Homo sapiens: one gene and its partners. The protein of the gene in region 1 purifies or fractionates together with the protein of each later gene. This does not show direct contact. Each region holds a gene or a part of one and is shown in the gene's direction. Other genes may lie near its edges.

What was found. Proteins that work in one complex are often made in the same cells at the same time.
Region 2: the proteins of TRMT1L (region 1) and GNE fractionate together in Homo sapiens (co-fractionation; one large-scale study listed by BioGRID). This does not show direct contact.
Region 3: the proteins of TRMT1L (region 1) and VRK1 fractionate together in Homo sapiens (co-fractionation; one large-scale study listed by BioGRID). This does not show direct contact.
Region 4: the proteins of TRMT1L (region 1) and UFD1 fractionate together in Homo sapiens (co-fractionation; one large-scale study listed by BioGRID). This does not show direct contact.

Annotation. Positions count from the first base shown.
Region 1 is NC_000001.11:185,135,710-185,140,644, reverse strand, and holds part of TRMT1L (tRNA (guanine(27)-N(2))-dimethyltransferase), read left to right. Parts: intron 1-422; coding exon 423-672; intron 673-1,065; coding exon 1,066-1,278; intron 1,279-2,848; coding exon 2,849-3,039; intron 3,040-4,935. UniProt on the Homo sapiens protein: Specifically dimethylates a single guanine residue at position 27 of tRNA(Tyr) using S-adenosyl-L-methionine as donor of the methyl groups. Dimethylation at position 27 of tRNA(Tyr) is required for efficient translation of tyrosine codons.
Region 2 is NC_000009.12:36,216,566-36,221,254, reverse strand, and holds part of GNE (bifunctional UDP-N-acetylglucosamine 2-epimerase/N-acetylmannosamine kinase), read left to right. Parts: intron 1-1,234; coding exon 1,235-1,417; intron 1,418-2,955; coding exon 2,956-3,072; intron 3,073-3,654; coding exon 3,655-3,890; 3' UTR 3,891-4,689. UniProt on the Homo sapiens protein: Bifunctional enzyme that possesses both UDP-N-acetylglucosamine 2-epimerase and N-acetylmannosamine kinase activities, and serves as the initiator of the biosynthetic pathway leading to the production of N-acetylneuraminic acid (NeuAc), a critical precursor in the synthesis of sialic acids.
Region 3 is NC_000014.9:96,799,576-96,804,510, forward strand, and holds part of VRK1 (serine/threonine-protein kinase VRK1), read left to right. Parts: intron 1-4,935. UniProt on the Homo sapiens protein: Serine/threonine kinase involved in the regulation of key cellular processes including the cell cycle, nuclear condensation, transcription regulation, and DNA damage response.
Region 4 is NC_000022.11:19,451,674-19,455,999, reverse strand, and holds part of UFD1 (ubiquitin recognition factor in ER-associated degradation protein 1), read left to right. Parts: intron 1-231; coding exon 232-320; intron 321-1,169; coding exon 1,170-1,251; intron 1,252-4,311; exon of another isoform or gene 4,312-4,326. UniProt on the Homo sapiens protein: Essential component of the ubiquitin-dependent proteolytic pathway which degrades ubiquitin fusion proteins.

The DNA of each region.
Region 1 (4,935 bases):
GTGTTGGTCCAGAAAAGTTTTTCATATTTTGGTCCATGATGGTAAACTTCAGCAGGAGGTATTCCAACTTCCCATCCTCCCTTCAAGCAGAGTAATCCCATTTGTATAAAGTATTCCATGGTCAGAAAAAAAGCAAAAAAGAAAACATTTTCCACTATTCAACAAAATAAAAAGCATACATAGAGATTTTATTTGAACAAGGATCATAAAATAGGTTTAGAAGAAGTATTAGTTAAAATCTGTTAGACAGATTTTTAGTTATAACCTTTCTTGAGAAGCTTTGTAGTAAGAAGGAATAAGATTCATGAAAACATTAAATTTTGAAATAATTTGTTATTTATAAAACTGAATGTTGTTATACCATTTTTATTCTTTAAAATTATTACAATTATAAAACTCATTTTCTTCCCATTTTTCCTAAGGGATAATGGGATTACAGTGGGCAAAACATCTTGGAAATGCAGTCAAAGTTACAATCAATGACTTGAATGAAAATTCTGTGACACTGATTCAGGAAAACTGCCATTTAAACAAATTGAAAGTGGTGGTGGACAGTAAGGAAAAGGAAAAGAGTGATGATATTCTTGAAGAAGGAGAGAAAAATCTTGGTAATATTAAGGTGACCAAAATGGATGCCAATGTACTGATGCATTTGAGATCTTTTGATTTCATGTAAGTAGAAAAGACTTGCCGTGTCACTTTCTAAACTTATCTGAAATTTTGGGGACGAGGAGTAGTTAAAAATTAAGACAGTTTTTTGTTGTTTATTTATTTAAATTAATGCCATTTTTTGACATTGGCCTAAGGTATGCAGTATGAAAATTTTCTAGTATTTGAAATAAAATGCCTGGGCATGTGACTTTTCCTCTAACCCGAATTTATTTTTACATGTCTGATACATCATACTATCATTTTATTACTTAATTTCAAAACAGAATTATGTACTTAAAATATATTTGCAATGTATTTTTAAATCCATGGAATTTTATAATTAGAAATAATTACAGTGGTATAATTTTTGTTACTAATATGACTTTAAAATGTCTATATTCTTTCTGATTTTAGACATCTAGACCCTTTTGGAACATCAGTGAATTATCTAGATTCTGCATTCAGAAATATAAGAAACCTTGGCATAGTGTCAGTGACTTCTACAGATATCAGTTCTTTATATGCCAAGGCACAGCATGTTGCCCGGCGTCACTACGGATGTAACATTGTCCGAACTGAATATTACAAGGAACTAGCAGCCAGAATTGTTGTAGCTGCAGTGGCAAGGTACCAAATTGCCAACAGTGTACTTAGTGTGTTTCAGTATTTGATAAAAAGAGATAATATTACAAGAAGTACTTACCTTATTCAAAATATGCACAAAATATAAATTCTGTATTCCTTATCTGTAATACTGGTTTTTAATCTTACGTGGTATCTGTTGTAATTTTATTTAAAAGTTTATACCTGAAATATTCAGTTTACTCTCCAATTAAAATGTTACTGAAATAAAGTATAAGAAAGAAAAGGTAAAAGTGAAAGTTAATTTCCAGTTTATTTCAACAATGTAGGATAAAGGATAGCTATATGAAAGGAAAAGCAAAAACTGTTTTGTTTTGTTTTTTCACCATGTTGCCCAGGATGAAACAAGACTCCTGGCCAACATGGTGAAACCCCGTCTCTACTAAAAATACAAAAATTAGCTGGGCATGTTGGTACACACCTGTAATCACAGCTACGATTATAGGTTGAGGCACTAGAATCACTTGAACCCAGGAGCCACATGCTGCAGTGAGCCAAGGTTGCTCCACTGCACTCCAGCCTGGGCAACATAGTGAGACTCTGCCTCAGAAAGAAACAGTCATTTCTTTTATATCCATTCTGTTTTATCTTCTTTATTTATATAGTTTGAATAAAATGATGGCTTACAAACTTGATTCTGCAAAATGGTCTTACAAAATGGGAAGTTCTCTCCATTTCTCACCAGGATTTCCAAACAGAATTTGAAAACAGTTATTTTTTAAAAGGATGACTTTTTTTGAGCACTTACTATATGCAGATTATGCTAGAATAATATAATATAAACGGATATTGTGAATATAGATAATGGATAATCAGCCAGCTCACTTGCCAGCCCCAATACTAGTTTCAGAGCATTTAAGTAGAAATTTCTACCTCAGGATAAATACAGATTATTAGACTTCATAGACCTTCAGGGTTGTTTCTAATTACCTGAAAACTGATGTTTACTGTATGCATGCTAAGGACTTAACTGCACATACTTAAAAATGTCTATAATGTAATATCAGCAAATTCAGAGTAATATATATAAATTAAATGTAGTATATGACTGCAGAGTACATAAATGGTATATAGTAGAGCTTAATCCAAAAAGTCTGTGAAATTAATGGTGGAAAGGACTTTGACTGTTCTTTTTTCACTCAATTTTCAGTAGCTAGCATACTATCCTGCATATAGTCATTACTCAATAAATAGATACTGTTTGAAAGAAGCTTTTATAGGAAATAAAATAGATAAAAAGGAAGCAATGTGGTGGTGATGATAAGAAACAAAGTGAAAATGACTGAAAACCAGAAAATATTGCCCTATTGAGAGGATATCGCAAGGGAAAATGTCTAGAAACTGAAGACCCTCCCAAGCATCTTTTATTTCCTGTGTTTCAATTTCTGTAAAAGTTACAGTAATGATCTTTTAAAAGCACTGCTACTGAGAATTGAATTTTTCTTGATGTCCCATAACTTATCCATAGTATACTGTCCAGGTTAATATTGTCAGTATAATGCCAAACAAGGGAAAATGATAAGCCCACAAAATAACTTGAAAAAATTTATTGTAGAGCTGCAGCCCGATGCAACAAAGGCATAGAAGTACTGTTTGCAGTGGCTCTGGAACATTTTGTGTTGGTAGTTGTGAGAGTTTTGAGGGGACCTACTTCAGCAGATGAAACAGCCAAGAAGATTCAATACCTGATCCATTGTCAGTGGTGTGAAGAGAGAATTTTTCAGAAGGATGGTAATATGGTAGAAGGTAAATTCAAGTTATATATTATGTTTATCTATAATCCTCCACTGAATAAGCCTTTATCACATACCTAATTATACATATTGTTGTCCTTTGATTTTAAAGATTACAGTGCTAACTTTGTTATTTCCTATACTGGATTTCCTTTCGTCAACAGACAAGACATTCGTGTGAGTTTATTAAAGTTATTTACTCATGCTGTACAATATATGCTTTCTAGCTCTGCCTTCTATCGAAACATCTAGAAATAACTTAGTTTCCACTCTCAACTAATTTTAGGAACATAAGTCAGATTACGTTTTTTCCAGGCTGTTACAAATCATTAATTTTATAAAAATAATTTTCATGTTTCTGGCTGTGTATAAAAGCCATCAGTTATAAAATGCATTCAATAAACATTTATTGAGCCTCTACTATATGCCAGGCCTGGGGATGGGAAACAAGGAAAAAGCTGTAGTTTATGCCTTCATAAAGCTCTTTCTGTTTGTTTCAGTTCTGGGACATGGAAACAGTTGCTTATTGTTTTCTGTTAGGTTCTTGGTATTTTATGAATTTTTGAGTTTAGCACTTACTATGTTAAGTTGCAGATTTTTTTCTCATTTTGTCACTTTTTTTTTAATCTGTGTTGCAGAAGTTTTTTGTTGCTAATTGAATGTTTATGTAGTCTGGATTTTGCCTGTAGTTAGAAAGAGCTTTCCTATTCCTGGATTATTCAAAGTAGATTAGGTTGTATTGAATAGTACACCTTTCCTCCACTGATTTGAGAATACCTTCTTTATCTTATACTAAATTTCCACATGTATTTGAGTTTGCTTCTAGATTTTCTGTTCTGTTCCAGTGGTTGGATATTTCTTCATACACGTCTATCATACTGTTTTGACTATAGAGGCTTTTCAGTGTCATTTAATATCTGTGATGGCAATCCCTACTCAAAGCTCTTTGTTTTCAGTGTTCCTGTATTGCTCTTTTGTTAATCCCTTAATATAAAAGTAAATAATAACCCAGTTGGCATATTATTTTGATGACATTAAATTGGGGAGAATAGATACTGTGATTTTTGAAGCTTCCTACAAATATGATATGCTTTTCATTTGTGCAAGTACTTTAGTATAATGTTAACTGGTGGTGGTAATGGAGGAAATTCTGTCATGTTCCTTACTTTTAGTTTCCTCTAGCGCTTTCTATTTTTTTATTTTTTTTCAGATGGAGTCTTGCTCTGTCTTCTATCCAGGCTGGAGTTCAGTGGCACAATCTTGGCCCACTCAACCTCTGCTTCCTGGGCTCAAGCAATTCTCCTGCCTCAGCCTCCCAAGTACCTGGGACTATAGGCACACACCACCATGCCCGGCTACTTTTTGTATTTTTAGTAGAGACGGGGTTTCACCATGTTTGCTGGCTAGTCTGAAACTCCTGACCTGTAGTAATCTGCCCGCCGCATCCTCCCAAAGTGCTGGGATTACAGGCATGAGCCTCTGCACCCAGCCTCTAGTGCTTTCTGATTCAAGCATAATACTGGCTTTTCATCTACAATACATATCATTTATCACATTAAGGAAGAATACTTCATTTTTATTGTATTTTATCAAGATGTTGAATTTTGTCATAATGCATTTTCAGCATCTGTGGAGATGATTATATGGTTTTTCTCTTTAGGCTTACTAATTTGATTAATTGTAATAAAAGTTTCCAATATAGAACCAAACTGGATTTTGTAGAATAAACTATTGTCAGGTTTTTTTTTAATATGTTGTTGTATTTTATTTGCTAATTTTTAAAGGATTTTCTTGTTTCATGAGATGGTATATAGTTTTCCTTTGTAGCATAATTTTAGTTGGGCTTTGATCTATCAGTTTACTCCCTTCAAAAATAATTTGGAATGGTTCCCTTTTTTCAATTCTTAGG
Region 2 (4,689 bases), on another chromosome or scaffold:
CTGCCTCCCAGATTCAAGTGATTCCCCTGCCTCAGCCTCCCAAATGGCTGAGATTACAGGAATGTGCCACCACACCCGGCTAATTTCTGTATTTTTAGTAGAGACAAGGTTTCACCACGTTGGTCAGGCTGGTCTTGAACTTCTGGCTTCAGGTGATCTGCCCGCCTCAGCCTCCCAAAGTGCTGGGATTACAGGGGTGAGCCACCACACCCAGCCTAAGCTCATGTACTTTAGCTCATGCTCATCCTCTTTTAGTTCCAGACACAGTTTTAGCAAACTTGGATACCATTTCCTGGCTCAGAGCAGTGACTAAGCTGTAAATCAGAGGGCTAGGGGTTGAGGAATAAGTGCCCAAGAAGTGACAGATGGCAAGACAACCCTTAAAAGCAGAGCCTTCTCAGGCACAATACCCTTTACTCCTTTGTAACTGCTAAACGCCATAACAAAAGACAGTCACTGATATTTATAATTATTGAATCACAGATTTTTAGACATGGCAGCATCAAAAAAGGCAAAATCATTATTTCATATTTTCTGCTTCAGGAAGCAGGTAGTGTGTGATACATTTTAAAAGACTTATCTTGGGTATTCCTCAGAGCAGAGCCTGAGACAAGGATTTAGGTACAGGTATGGTTTTTTGGAGGTGACCACAAGAAGCAGGAGGGTGAGTGGGAAGAATGAAACAGAGCAGGAAGAAAGCCATTAAGGATATATTAACATTATTGAAGTTGACTTGAGGGCAAAGGGGGCTGAACTCCACTAGCACCTCCTAAGAAGCCTGCAGAACAGCATCCAGAATTGTCCTGTGGATCTGCCGGCTCCTGCCTTGCCTCGGTTGCAGGTTGCCCCTGGGTGCTGTGCCTGCGTGGCTGAGTAGGCTCTTGCTTCAGTGTTAGAGAAAGCCTTGGTGCAGAAAGATGGACAGTGTGTGCTGGGCCAGGGGGTCTGCTACCCACAAGGTGGGCATGCATTTTTGCTGCACTGTCCCCACAGCTGTGTTTGAAATCACAGTGACCCAAGCAGATGGGTCACAGGGCATCAGAGGATCTGCTAAAAACATTTCCATCCAAAATGCTGCCAGAGAATGCTTTGATGCCTAGTGGGCTTCAGCTGTCTAAAGAAGTATCTATAGACCCTCACATGCCAAAGCTCTGCTAAATAGATGAGGCGTTGTGATATCATAGTTTTCTGTTTCAGGTAAAGCACCCTCAGTGATTTCTATCCCTCGCTGTAGGAATCGGTGGTGGAATTATCCATCAGCATGAATTGATCCACGGAAGCTCCTTCTGTGCTGCAGAACTGGGCCACCTTGTTGTGTCTCTGGATGGGCCTGATTGTTCCTGTGGAAGCCATGGGTGCATTGAAGCATACGCCTCTGGAATGGCCTTGCAGAGGGAGGCAAAAAAGCTCCATGATGGTTGGTGTCCCTCTCTCGAGGAATTAAGTAACCAAATAGTAGACAAGTACTTCAAAGTGGAAATTCCAAAGACAGCTGAACACTGAAGCCAGAAGTTTCCCCCTTTTCACTTCTTAGGGAAAGAGCAGGGCTCCCTCGCACTAAAACTGCACAGTCTTCTTGGCTGACCCATATTGCCACTCTTCCTCCCCAGGGGTGGTGGTGGACAGAGGTCTAGAGTTCCAAGACAGCAGGGAAGATTTCCTTCAGTTTTGTTTTCTCAGCCAGTATCACAGGGAGGGTACTTAATACACATTTTAATGAAGAAATAAATGGACAAAACATGTTATGTATATATCACACATACATGCACTGTATGTGTAGTATATCTGTGCTTCATACATAAAAACAGTGTAGATTTTTGGCCCCCAAAACCAATTTGTGAGCATATGCTGAAGGAAAAGAGATGGGGAGTGGAGGCCGAGAGTGCAGGAGAGAAGTGTATAGAGCCCTACAGTAGGGTTCTGAAGAGGTGGGAAGAGATGAGCTGCAAAGCCAGGCAGAGGGTCCACGAGAGGGCATGGCGAGCCGAGATGATGGGTGTATGGGACAGGAAGCAAAAAGGTAGGGGATCACTGCCTGGTGGTGCCCCCTATGAGAGAGGTAAGAAGTATGCTCGTCTGTTGGCAGTGGGGGTAGAAGGACTGGGAAGGTGGTGAAGGTATAGAAAAGCGCAGTCAGAGAGAATGGGTGAGAGCTGTGAGGGCCCAGGGGAGACAGGAGACCACCAGTTGATGTCTAGGTTGCAGTTTGCACAGCTGGGGATTTTTCTCCTTCAGGGTCCAGATATTCTAGCAGATTAGTAGGAGGCAGATTGATCTGAGTTGGTGACGGGCAGAAGACAAGGACTACAGATAACCACAGAAATACCTGCTGCTTACTGAGCATTTACTGTGGCCAGCACTTAACTAAATACTTTATGTCCATGATCTCATTCCGTTCCTCAAATAACCCTGCCAGGGGAGGCACTACTGGTCTCATCTTCTAGGAAGGAGGAATGTGTACAGGTGAGGTGACAGGCATGGGGTCATGCAGCTGGGAGTGGCAGAGCTGGCACTGACCCCAGGCCTGTGTCTGTTCCTCAGCCACTGTGCCTCGCTGCCATAGAACGCGTGGCGCTGGCAGATGGCACAGCATTGTGTCTGGGATGAGTAAGGAAGGAGTGAATGTGGGAGGAGGGTGATAATTTGGAGAAAAGAACACTTCAAAGACTGTCTGCTACTGGAAGTGAGAAGTGAGGGAGCCAGAGGGGTAGGAGGCTGTCGTCAGACTTGAGGTTTTTCCAGGAAGATAGGTTCTGGGTTATGTACAACCAATTAGCAAGAGGGTAGCAAAGGCTTTAGGGGCAGTGTATAGAGATGTTTGTGAACGATAAGCTTTGCAATTGTGAAAAGAAAACACCGTCTTCCCATGTAGGGGCTTGCTTTCCACAGGCCCAGTGGTGAGCTTGGCCTCCCCACAGCTCATTAGTGACTGCTTTTCCTTCTCACTCTGTTCAGAGGACCTGCTCTTGGTGGAAGGGATGTCAGTGCCAAAAGATGAGGCTGTGGGTGCGCTCCATCTCATCCAAGCTGCGAAACTTGGCAATGCGAAGGCCCAGAGCATCCTAAGAACAGGTGAGCATGTGGCTGCAGGTGGCTGTGCTGCAGGGGGTGGCCTCAGATATCATATGGCCCAGCCCGGCCCCAGAAGAGACCCTGCTTCCCTAGGGACAGGTGCTTTGCAGTGTCTGTTCAGAGGTTTCTTTCCTAATTACTCAGAGGTAAAAAGGGAATTGGATTCAAGGTATTTGGCAGCATTGCCTTTTTCAGCAGGTGGTTGGTTTGGTTTGACAACTATAAAAATGCTCCTTTCATTTTACAGGAAATTTAGAGAAATATAGGACAGTTGTAAGAAAAAATATCACTTAGTTTTCCCATTTGGAGGTATCAACTATTAACATTTCCTTCGAGTCTTTCTATTCATTTTTTTGCCTAGTGGAGATCATGTGGTACACCCGGCTTTTTCCACTTGAGGCTGTCACATGATCATTTTCTCATATTAAGAATCAACCGTGAACTGCTTTTAAAACACTGCCTCCCACTGCATGCCGTGGATGTTCTTTAACATTTCTGCTGCTGGCTCTTTTCTGCCTTCCTCTTTGGTATTTTGATTTTGGCTTCTCTCAGAAACTCATTTTAATTTTTGTCTCCCTATAGCTGGAACAGCTTTGGGTCTTGGGGTTGTGAACATCCTCCATACCATGAATCCCTCCCTTGTGATCCTCTCCGGAGTCCTGGCCAGTCACTATATCCACATTGTCAAAGACGTCATTCGCCAGCAGGCCTTGTCCTCCGTGCAGGACGTGGATGTGGTGGTTTCGGATTTGGTTGACCCCGCCCTGCTGGGTGCTGCCAGCATGGTTCTGGACTACACAACACGCAGGATCTACTAGACCTCCAGGAACAGACATGGACCTTCTCTCCAGAGCTCCTGAGTGGAATCAAGTTCTTGTCTTTAGGATGACCGTTTCTTAACAATCAAATCTGGTATTGAACTGCAGGTGACTTTGGCAGAGAAATGTTTTCACTTTTGGTCTCCTCTTCCAGAGTCACCTTTCCCCACTCCTATTTTTGTAGATGCTATTCTTTCTGATGTCTTCTTACTAGGGGTCATTTTAGCTCAAACCCTGTAAGTTACAGTCACAATTTTCTGTGCCAAAGCAGCTACAATAATAGAGAGGAAGCCTTCTTAGAACTCTGCTTACTAATGTATTAATACCACTGAGACCTTCAGGCCTTGCCTGGGATATCACTTCATCCTGAAGTTTGCATTAATAATCCTTCCAGGCCGGGCACAGTGGCTCACGCCTGTAATCCCAGCACTTTGGGAGGCCGAGGCGGGCGGATCACGAGGTCAGGAGATCGAGACCGCCCTGGCTAACATGGTGAAACATGGTGAAACCCCGTCTCTACTAAAAATACAAAAAATTAGCTGGGTGTGGTGGCGGGTCCCAGCTACTCGGGAGGCTGAGGCAGGAGAATGGCATGAACCAGGGAGGCGGAGCTGGCAGTGAACTGAGACCGCACCACTGCACTCCAGCCTGGGTGACAGAGCAAGACTCCATCTCAAAAATAATAATAATAAATAATAATAATAATAATAATAATAATAATAATCCTTCCAGCTGGGCGCAGTGGCTCACGCCTGTAATCCCAACATTTTGGGAGGCCGAGATGGGCGGATCACCTGAG
Region 3 (4,935 bases), on another chromosome or scaffold:
ATATCAAATGAAGGATGTCTCCTGAATTTATGCAAATGTGCAAATGCTTATATCTCCGTAGATCAGGCAGTGAGCCTAATGGGAATTAAATGCTGCCTCTTTGTGCGTGTGAGTGAGGCTTTCATGAAAATTGCTCTTGATGGGTTCTGAGAATGGATTGGTAGCTGAATAGGACTGGAGAATATTTTTCAGACTGGTAGGATATTTTACATGCTTGCCAGGGTTATTTTTCGGAGTAAGGAGAAATGGACTCATTTATTCAGCAGAGATCACGTGCCCCCTATTTACAAGGAATTGTGCTAGGTGCAAAGTCTATTGCTATTGTAGTGTTTTGCTGAAGCAAGTTTTCTTTGTTTTAAATTAGTGTACGTCTTTTTTTTTTTTTTTTTAACTTTATCTAGCATCCAGCACAGAATAATCCAATAAATGTGTAGGGCGCCTTTGAAAAACTGCACTATTAATGTTAAAATGTAGAAAATGTTTAATAAAGGTACAAGATTAATTTAAAAGGGTGATAGAACCCTAATAAAACATTTAGGTAGGTGTTGTAACCAAGATGTATTTTTACTCTAGGATAAGTTTGGCTCTTTTGATCAAAATTCCTGTGAATATATTTCTACTTGCCATTATAAAGATGCAGAGGGCTCTGTCCTTTGAATTTTTTCCCTTTGGTGCTTGAATGATATTTAAGCACCCAGCATTCTGAAGTTGCTGTTTTGAAGTAATTTCATGCACTTTCCCAATTACTCCTGCTCCATCTCTCCCAATGTTGTCTTAAATCTTTGCACTCAAATTCAAGCACATCCTACTCCTCCTGTTCTGAGTGACATATGGGCAACACTTTAAAAAAGAAAAGCTCTCTAGAAAATCTAGAGAGGTACGAGCGATGGCCCTTCTCCCATATTAGGAGTTAGATTTTTAGTATTCATCAATAAATACTGATGAGAAGAAACTGCTCTACTTTTACCAACATTCTTCAGGAAATTTATTAAGATTTTTATTAGCCACAGTATCTTTGTCAGCTTGGAAACATATATGTTTGTGAATCACATTTATTTAGTCTTTAGGTAAGTATATGGATTTTGATGATTCTTTGCAGTTACTCCTATCTCTCTATGGGTTTCTTGCCCATAGGATGGGAACCAGTACTCTAGGATTTGAAAATTAAGGTAGATACTGTTCACACTGGCAAATATTTAAGATGAATATTAAACGTGTATACTAAAATGTTTATTGGTAAGTAATTCATTAAATGGGAAGATATACTAGATGAAGTAAATAATTAAATTGCAAGCACAAGCAAATTAAATTTGAGATTTGGGAATGGTCTGTCATATACTTTTAAAGCAAATATCATACTGATAATGGAAGGACACGTGTCTTGTGGAGCTCAGTATCAGGAACAATATAGTTGGTCCTGCAGGGGACTAAACATGAGAACTGAAAGTCATTAGGAACACGAGCAGCCTCATTCCACTGTTCCAGGGACCTTATAATTTCTTTCTGTGTATTTATTTTATTTTCTTTTTGAGGACCGTCTGTCTGGCTGTTTGTATGTCGGCAGATATGTCTGCTCTAGACTTAGATACTTGCTTTAAGAATCCAAAAGAGATTGCATTATCTAATTGTCATTTATATCTAAAATTAAACAAACCATGAAGTTAGACATAGCTAAGATAACCACAGCTTTATTTCAGGTTAATTGCTTTTCTTAGATTGTTTTTATCAAGTGACAGCTAAAGAAAAGTCATCATTTGATGACACTAAGTATTAGTGCATTGTGATTGCGTTTCACAATATTAAGTGTTAGAAAGAACTATTAGACCTTAAGTATTTATAGAATGTGTCTGGAAGACACAGGGAGAGAAACTGTTAATGTTTCTACTGTAGTCTTTAGAGTTGCTTTTTTCACATCTTATTGCAGTTTACTATGTAATTTGGCAACAGCTATCAACATAGAGATTATATGTAATTACAGTGTACCCTTGAACAACTCAGGGGTTGGGAGTGCTGACCCCCATGCAGTTGAAAATCCATGTATAAGCTTTGACTCCTCAAAAGCTTAACCACTCATAGCCTGTTGACCAGAAGCCCTACCAATAGCATAAACAATTAACACATATTTGTATATGTACTATATGCTATATTCTTACAATACAATAAGCTAGAGAAAAGAAAATATTATTAAGAAAACCCTAAGAAAGAGCAAATATATTTATTGTTCATGAAGCGGAAGTGGGCCATCTTAAAGGTCTTCATCCTCATTGTCTTGGTGTTGAGTAGGCTCAGGAGGAGGAACAAGAGGAGAGGTTGGTCTTGCTGTCTTGGAGTGGCAGAGGCAGAAGAAAATCTGTGTATAAGTGGACCTGCACAGTTCACACTCATGTTGTTCAAGGGTCAGCTGTATGCATTTTTTTCTTAGAGGTAATCTGTTATTTGGGAATCAGGAAAAAAGTTTTAAAATTCATTTTTTAAAAATAAGTTCAGGTTATAACATTTAAGAAGTTTAATCTTGTTTTTTCAGACTTGCAGAAAATACTTTAGAAATGCTGACTCTAAAATTTATCTTTCATATGTTGCTGGTAGGAATGTAAAATGATATAACCACTCTGGAAATTAGTTTGGCAATTTCTCGAAAAGTTAAACGTACATTTGACACACAATCCAGCGATTGCACTCCTGAGCCTTTATCCTAGAGAAATAAAAACGTTCACAAAAAAACCTGTACATGAATGCTCGTAGAAGCCTTGTTTATAATAGCTAAAAACCAGAAACAACTCACATGTCCTTCAGTGGGTGAATGGTTAAATAAAATGTGATAGTCTTGCGGTAGAACACCACCATCAAAAAAAGAAACAAACTGTTGGTTCATGCAGCAACTTGGTTGGAGTTTAAGGGCATTGTATTGAGTGAAAAAAGCCAGTCTCAGAGATTGTATGATTCCATTTATATAGGATTCTCAAAATGACAAAATTATAGAAATGCAGAACAGACCGGTTTTGCTGGGGTTAGGGCTGACTTTCTTTGAGATGATAGAACAGTTCAGTGTCTTGTTTATGGTGATGGTTACATGAATCTGTACACATGACACAATGTCCTAGAATTAGACACACAAAAGAATGTAAAAGCTGACATTTCAATAAGTAGTTCAGTGATGAATATTGTATTAGTGTCACTTTCCTGCTTTTGATAATTGCACAGTGCTTGTCCATTTTATGGCTGTATCACATTTAACCATTTACCCATGGAAGGCCATGTGGGTTGTTTCTGGTTTTTGGTGATTGCAGGTAAAGCTGCTATGAACATTAATGTACAGGTTCTTTTGTGACTGTAAGTTTTAATTGTTCTAGAATAAATATCTAGAAATTCAACTGCTGGGTCATATAGTGATAAAACCTTGAGCCCTCTTATTCTGTCCCAGGTGGGGTGTAAATCATCCCTTTGTCCAGCATATCCACACTGTATACACTACCCACCAGCTAGTTAGTCACTCTTGGTTATCAGATTGACTGTCTGGTGTCTTGGTGCTTGTGTTTGAGAATCCCTTATTGTACTTAGTAGTGACCCCAAGTGCAAGACTAGTGATGCTGGCATTTTTTTTTTTTTTTTTTTTGAGGCAGGTCTCTTATCTTGTCCCCCAGGCTGGAGTGCAATGGTGTGATCTCAGCTCACTGCAACCTCCGCCTCCCAGGGTCAAGCGATTCTCTTGCCTCAGCCTCCCTAGTAGCTGGGTCACAGGCGCCTGCTGCCACGCACCGCAAATTTTTGCATTTTAAGTAGAGACAGGGTTTCACCATTTTGGCCAGGCTGGTCTCGAACTCCTGACTTCAGGTGATCCGCCTGCCTCTGCCTCCCAAAGTGCTGGGACTGCAGGGAGTGAGCCACCGCATCTGGCCGCTGACATATTGTTATAATTACTCTTAGTATTGTTGTTAATCTCTTAACTGGCTCCAATTTATAAATTAAGCTTCATCATAAGTATGTCTATCTAATGTATGTATAGGAAAAAACGTATTTATGTAGGGTTCGATACTCTCCATACTCTCCACCATTTAAGGTATCCACTGAGGGCTTTGGAATGTATCCCTCACAGATGAAGGGGGTGCTGCTGTGTTTGAGAGATACAGTTTCTCCACAACCTCACTACCATTTGGTATTGGTGATATTTTTTGTGCGTACTGGTATCTTGTCATGGCTTTAATTTGCATCCTAATGGCTGATGATTTCATGTGCTTATTTGCCATTCATATTTTTTTTGGTGATTTGTCTGTTCAAGTCTTTTACCCGTTTTGTGATTGGTTTGTTTTCTTACTGATTTTAGAGCATTCTTTATATGTTGTGTATACAAAATCCTTTGCCAAATATATGATTTGTAAATATATTCTCTCAGTCTCTGGCTTGTCTTTTCATTCTCTTAACAGTGTCTTTAGCAGCAAAAAAGTTTCAAATTTTGTTAAAGTCCAACTTCTCAATATATGGATCGTGTTTTTAGTGCCTATCTTAGAACTCTCTGCCTAACTCTAGGTCAGGAGGTTGTTCTCATTTTTTCTTCTGTTTTACCCTTATATGTCTTACATTTAGATCCGTGATCCTTTTTGGTTTCATTTTTGCACAGGATGTGAGCTTTAGATCTTGGTACATTTTTCTTTTCCTTTTGTCCATGGATGTCCAGTTGTTCCAAAACCATTTGTTGAAAAGTCTACCCTTTCTCCATTCAATAAGTTTTAAAAATCAAAAATCAGTTGGCCATATACTGTAAATTAGGTATCAAAACAAAGACAGGAAGAAATGAATGAGCAATTAACTATTAATAAATACAGGTTTATTGAAGGTATAACATGGCTGGAGTCTGGAAAAAGTGGGAAAACATTTTAGAGAATAACATGGGCAAAGATCTGTTCTAGAGAAAATAAGTAAGAACTGGCTATTTTTGGG
Region 4 (4,326 bases), on another chromosome or scaffold:
CTGACTGCTGGCTGCCCTTGGCCAAGTGGCTGTCTTCAGCTCATGGCCACCCCCTGAGGAACTGGGCAGAGTTCTTAGCTGCCAGCACCCCAGCAGTTGAGGAGTCAGGGCTTCAGTCCTGAAGGGGTCTGCACAGCACCCCCAGCTCACATCCCTGCAGTGATCTCCAAGCAAAGGACATATCGTCCTCACACTTGGGCTTATTATATGACTCACCTACTTCCTGTCTAGGCTTTCTCTGGATCTGGCAATAGACTGGATGGAAAGAAGAAAGGGGTAGAGCCCAGCCCCTCCCCAATCAAGCCTGGAGATATTAAAAGGTAGGTCTGTCCTGGCTCTCCTCCAGGACAGGAGGAGGATCTGTGCCAGCCCGCTGGGGTCGGGCAGCCTCACCCCAGTTCTGGAGACAAAGCCTGGGTCAGTAGTCTCCCAAGGGACTAAAACCCTTAGCTGCTCTCCTTGGTGGGGTGGAGCACAACATGCCCCTCCTTCCACAGTGCCACCCCCAGTACCACTGTGGTCCAGCCTCTCTCCATACCTCTCCATACCCCCAATTCAGCCTCTTCTTGCCCCCACTGGCTTTCCTAAGATGCGAGTCTGATTAGATCTGTCTCTTACTCAAAACCTTTCTGGTCCCTATTTGGTGATCTGCCTATTTTCCTGTTTTGTGACTTGGAATTATTAATCAGGTCACATTATCTCAGTTCCCCTGAAAGTTCCCTGAGGAGCTACCTCAGATGTGCTTCTGTTGCTGGGTCCGGGGACCCACAGCAGACCCTTCCTCTGGTGGCCATGATGGCAGGGGCAGGGCTGAGGTGTGTCAGTTGTCTGTTGTGTGTGTGAAATCAGAATACTGGAGTGAGAGTCTAGCCACCTCAGGGGGTTCTGTGAAGCTCAGGACAGTGACAGTGAGGGCTTCCCAATCCTTCAGATGACCCCTCTCCATAGACAGGTACAGAGCCTAAAGCCCCTGGCCCTATACCCAATATTGATACCAAACCAAGAAGTCAGTTACTTTCTGCTTCCCTCCTGGGAGGATGCCAGGAAGCACCAAAGGGCCCAGGTGGGGTGCAGCAGCATCTTTTCTGCGTTCCTCTTGACTGTCAAAAATGAATTTTAGTCCTTTTTTCCTGGAAATAACATTTCTCTGTCTCTGTCTCTTCTTACAGAGGAATTCCCAATTATGAATTTAAACTTGGTAAGATAACTTTCATCAGAAATTCACGTCCCCTTGTCAAAAAGGTTGAAGAGGTGAGTGTATTTCCTTGTATTTCCTTGGTTGGTAATGAGGAGATTTATTTGCTAGTGATGACTGAAGTTCTTGGCATTCTGAGTAGGGGTGTGCATTAGTCTGTTTCCAAGCTGCTGGTAAAGATGTACCCGAGACTGGGCAATTTACAAAAGAAAGAGGTTTAATGGACTTACAGTTCACATGGCTGGGGAGGCCTCACAATCATGGCAGGGGGCAAGTCACATCTTACATGGATGGTAGCAGGCAGAGAAAAAGCTGGTGCAGGGAAACACCTACTTATAAAACCATCAGATCTCATGAGACTTATTCACTATCATGATAACAGCACGGAAAAGACCCGCCCTCATGACTCAGTTACCTCCCACCGACTCAGTTACCTCCCACCTGGTCCCTCCCACAACACGTGGTAATTCAAGATGAGATTTGGGTGGGGACGCAGCCAAACCACATGAGGGTGTCTGTCATGTTTTCCCTTTCCTAGGGTCCCTCTGCTCCCTGGTGTCCTGTTTTTTTCTGTAGAGCTGGTGTAGGGTGTATGAAACAGAAGACTTGCAGCATGGGGGTCAGGAGCTCTGTCTTGCTCTAGAGCCGACTCCAGGCTCTGTTATCACAGAACTGTGTGCCCTGGGTGGGCTTCGTCTTCCAACAGAGACCTTGAACTTCAAATATAGGCAGCACCTTCTAGCTGAGCAGGGTGGTGGCGGGACAGAGGAAGGCAAGGGCTGAGCATCCTGTAGACATGGGCACTTTGTGGGAATATGGCCAGGCCTGGCAGCAACTGGAACGCAGTCACCTCTTTGTGATGAGGATTTCTACAACACCAGCGCTTCAGACCCATCGCTCTCCTGGTTCCTTTTCTCAAAGGATTGGACCCTTGAGGATCCAGGATCAGGGCAGAGGGCAGATGTACTGAGCCACCCATTCAGGACCAGCTGCTACATGGGAGCCATCCCAATTACTGAACTCTTTTCTCTAGCACTTGGGGTGGTTGGGGACAGAGACCACTGTGAAGTTTGCACACCTGGTCCTACTCACAACCACTTCTGGGCTCAATGTTCAAGTTGAAACAGCATTGGGCATTGGGACCTTTCAGGCTCAGAGGAGCAAACATAGTGGCCAGTCAGACCTCACCCTCCAGCTCCTCCTTCAGGCACCATCCAGGCTTCACCAGCTACAGGCTGCCTTTCTCACTAAAAGCCAGTGCCTGACTCCGACCTAAGACCTTAGCATGGGACGTCCCCCAGGCTGACTGTGACCTGACTGTTGCAAATTTACAGAAGGCAGGGGAGGCCAGTGGGCACAGCAGGCCTGTTTGACCATAAATATGTATTTAAGAAGTATATGTTTAAAGATGGGATTGAAGACATATTTAGCTCTATTCCATCCTGCAGCCCCACTAAGGCTGTGGCTAAAGGTCATGAGGTAAGAAAGACAGTGGAAGAGGAGGCAACTACAAGGCTTTGGAAGCCCCAGGTACCTTAGTAGACCATAGAAAGCCTAGAAGCAGTTCTGTGTAGATTGTGGAATTCTCAAAAGGCACCTCTAGAAATGAGGGACTAAAGACAGAATTCTGTTACTAAGCAGTTAGAGCTGCATTACCCTCCCTCCCCCATCCCAGAAGGCTGGAGGCTCGACTCCAGTAGGTCTCTAGACTACTATCTCTGAAGTGAAGGCCACAGTCAGAAAGCTTTCCATTCCAGCATCTAAATAATAGAGGATTTGTGGGAAGAACAGCCACAGAAACCAAAGGAGCAGAAATCATCAGGGAAATAGTTTCCCCAAAGATGGGCACAATTTTGCAGATTTGAAGGGCTCACTGAGTTCCAGCAAAATGAATGAAAATAGCCCCACTTTGAGGCAAAGAAAGATCCTAAAGCTTCTAGAGAGAGAACAGAGGTATCACCATGCATTAAGGACATCATCAGCCAAGCGCCATGGCTCACACCTGTAATCCCAACACTTTGGGAGGCTGATGCGGGAAGATCATCTGAGCCCAGGAGTTTGAGACCAGCCTGGGCAATATAGGGAGACCCTGTCTCTACAGAAAATTTTAAAAATTAGCCAAGCATGGTGGCACGCACCTATAGTCCCAGCTACTTTAATGCTGAGTTGGGAGCATCACTTGAGCCTGGGAGGTGGAGGCTGCTGTGAGCTGAGATCACACCACTGCACTCCAGCCTGGGTAACAGTAAGTCCCTGTCTCCCAAAAAAAGGGACATCATCTTAGCAGGACACAGAGGAAACTAGAAGATAGTGGAGCAATATACTCAAAATTCTGAGGGGAAATTTTTTCCAACCTAAAATTCTGTACCAACTCTTATGAGCTGGATTGTGTCCCTCCAGTGTTTCTGTGTTGAAGCCCTAACCCCCAGTAACTCAGATAGGGCCATTTAAAGAAGCAATTAAGTTAAAATAAGACCATTAGAGTTGGCCATAATTCAATCTGGTGTCCTTTTAAGAAGAGGAAATTTGGACATAGGAAGGGCCATGTGAGGACACAGCAAGAAGGCAGCCATCTGCAAGCCAAGGAAAAGGGTGTCAGAGGAAACCAAACCTGCTGACACCTTGATCCTGCACTTCTAGCCTCCAAAACTATGAAGAATAAATTTCTGTTGTTTGAGCCACCCTATCTTTGGCATTTTATATGGCAGCCCTAGCAGACTAACATACCAACCAGCCTATCAATGAAATATGAGATTAGAAAAAAGGAACTCACAAGAAGATAATCCTCATGCATCTTTTCTCAGGAAGCTCCTAGGAGGTGTTCCTCACTAAAATGAAGGAATAAGGTAGAAATAAGAAAGTCATAGAATCCAGGAAATAAGGAGCCCCCACTAACATGTACGGCACCTAGAGAAAGGCCAGTCCAGGTACGGCAGGGCGAAGGCCCAGGAGACACAGGTTTGTCAAAACAGATGAACTCCATGCAATGCAGGCTGTGATTGAATAGAGGAAGAAGCCAAACACAGCTATTGACACCAGGATGAATGGAAGGCTGTGCGGCAAAGGAAGACTAAATGCAGCTGTGACTCAAATTTACATGAATGTGACCACATAAATACTAAACAGTGCTC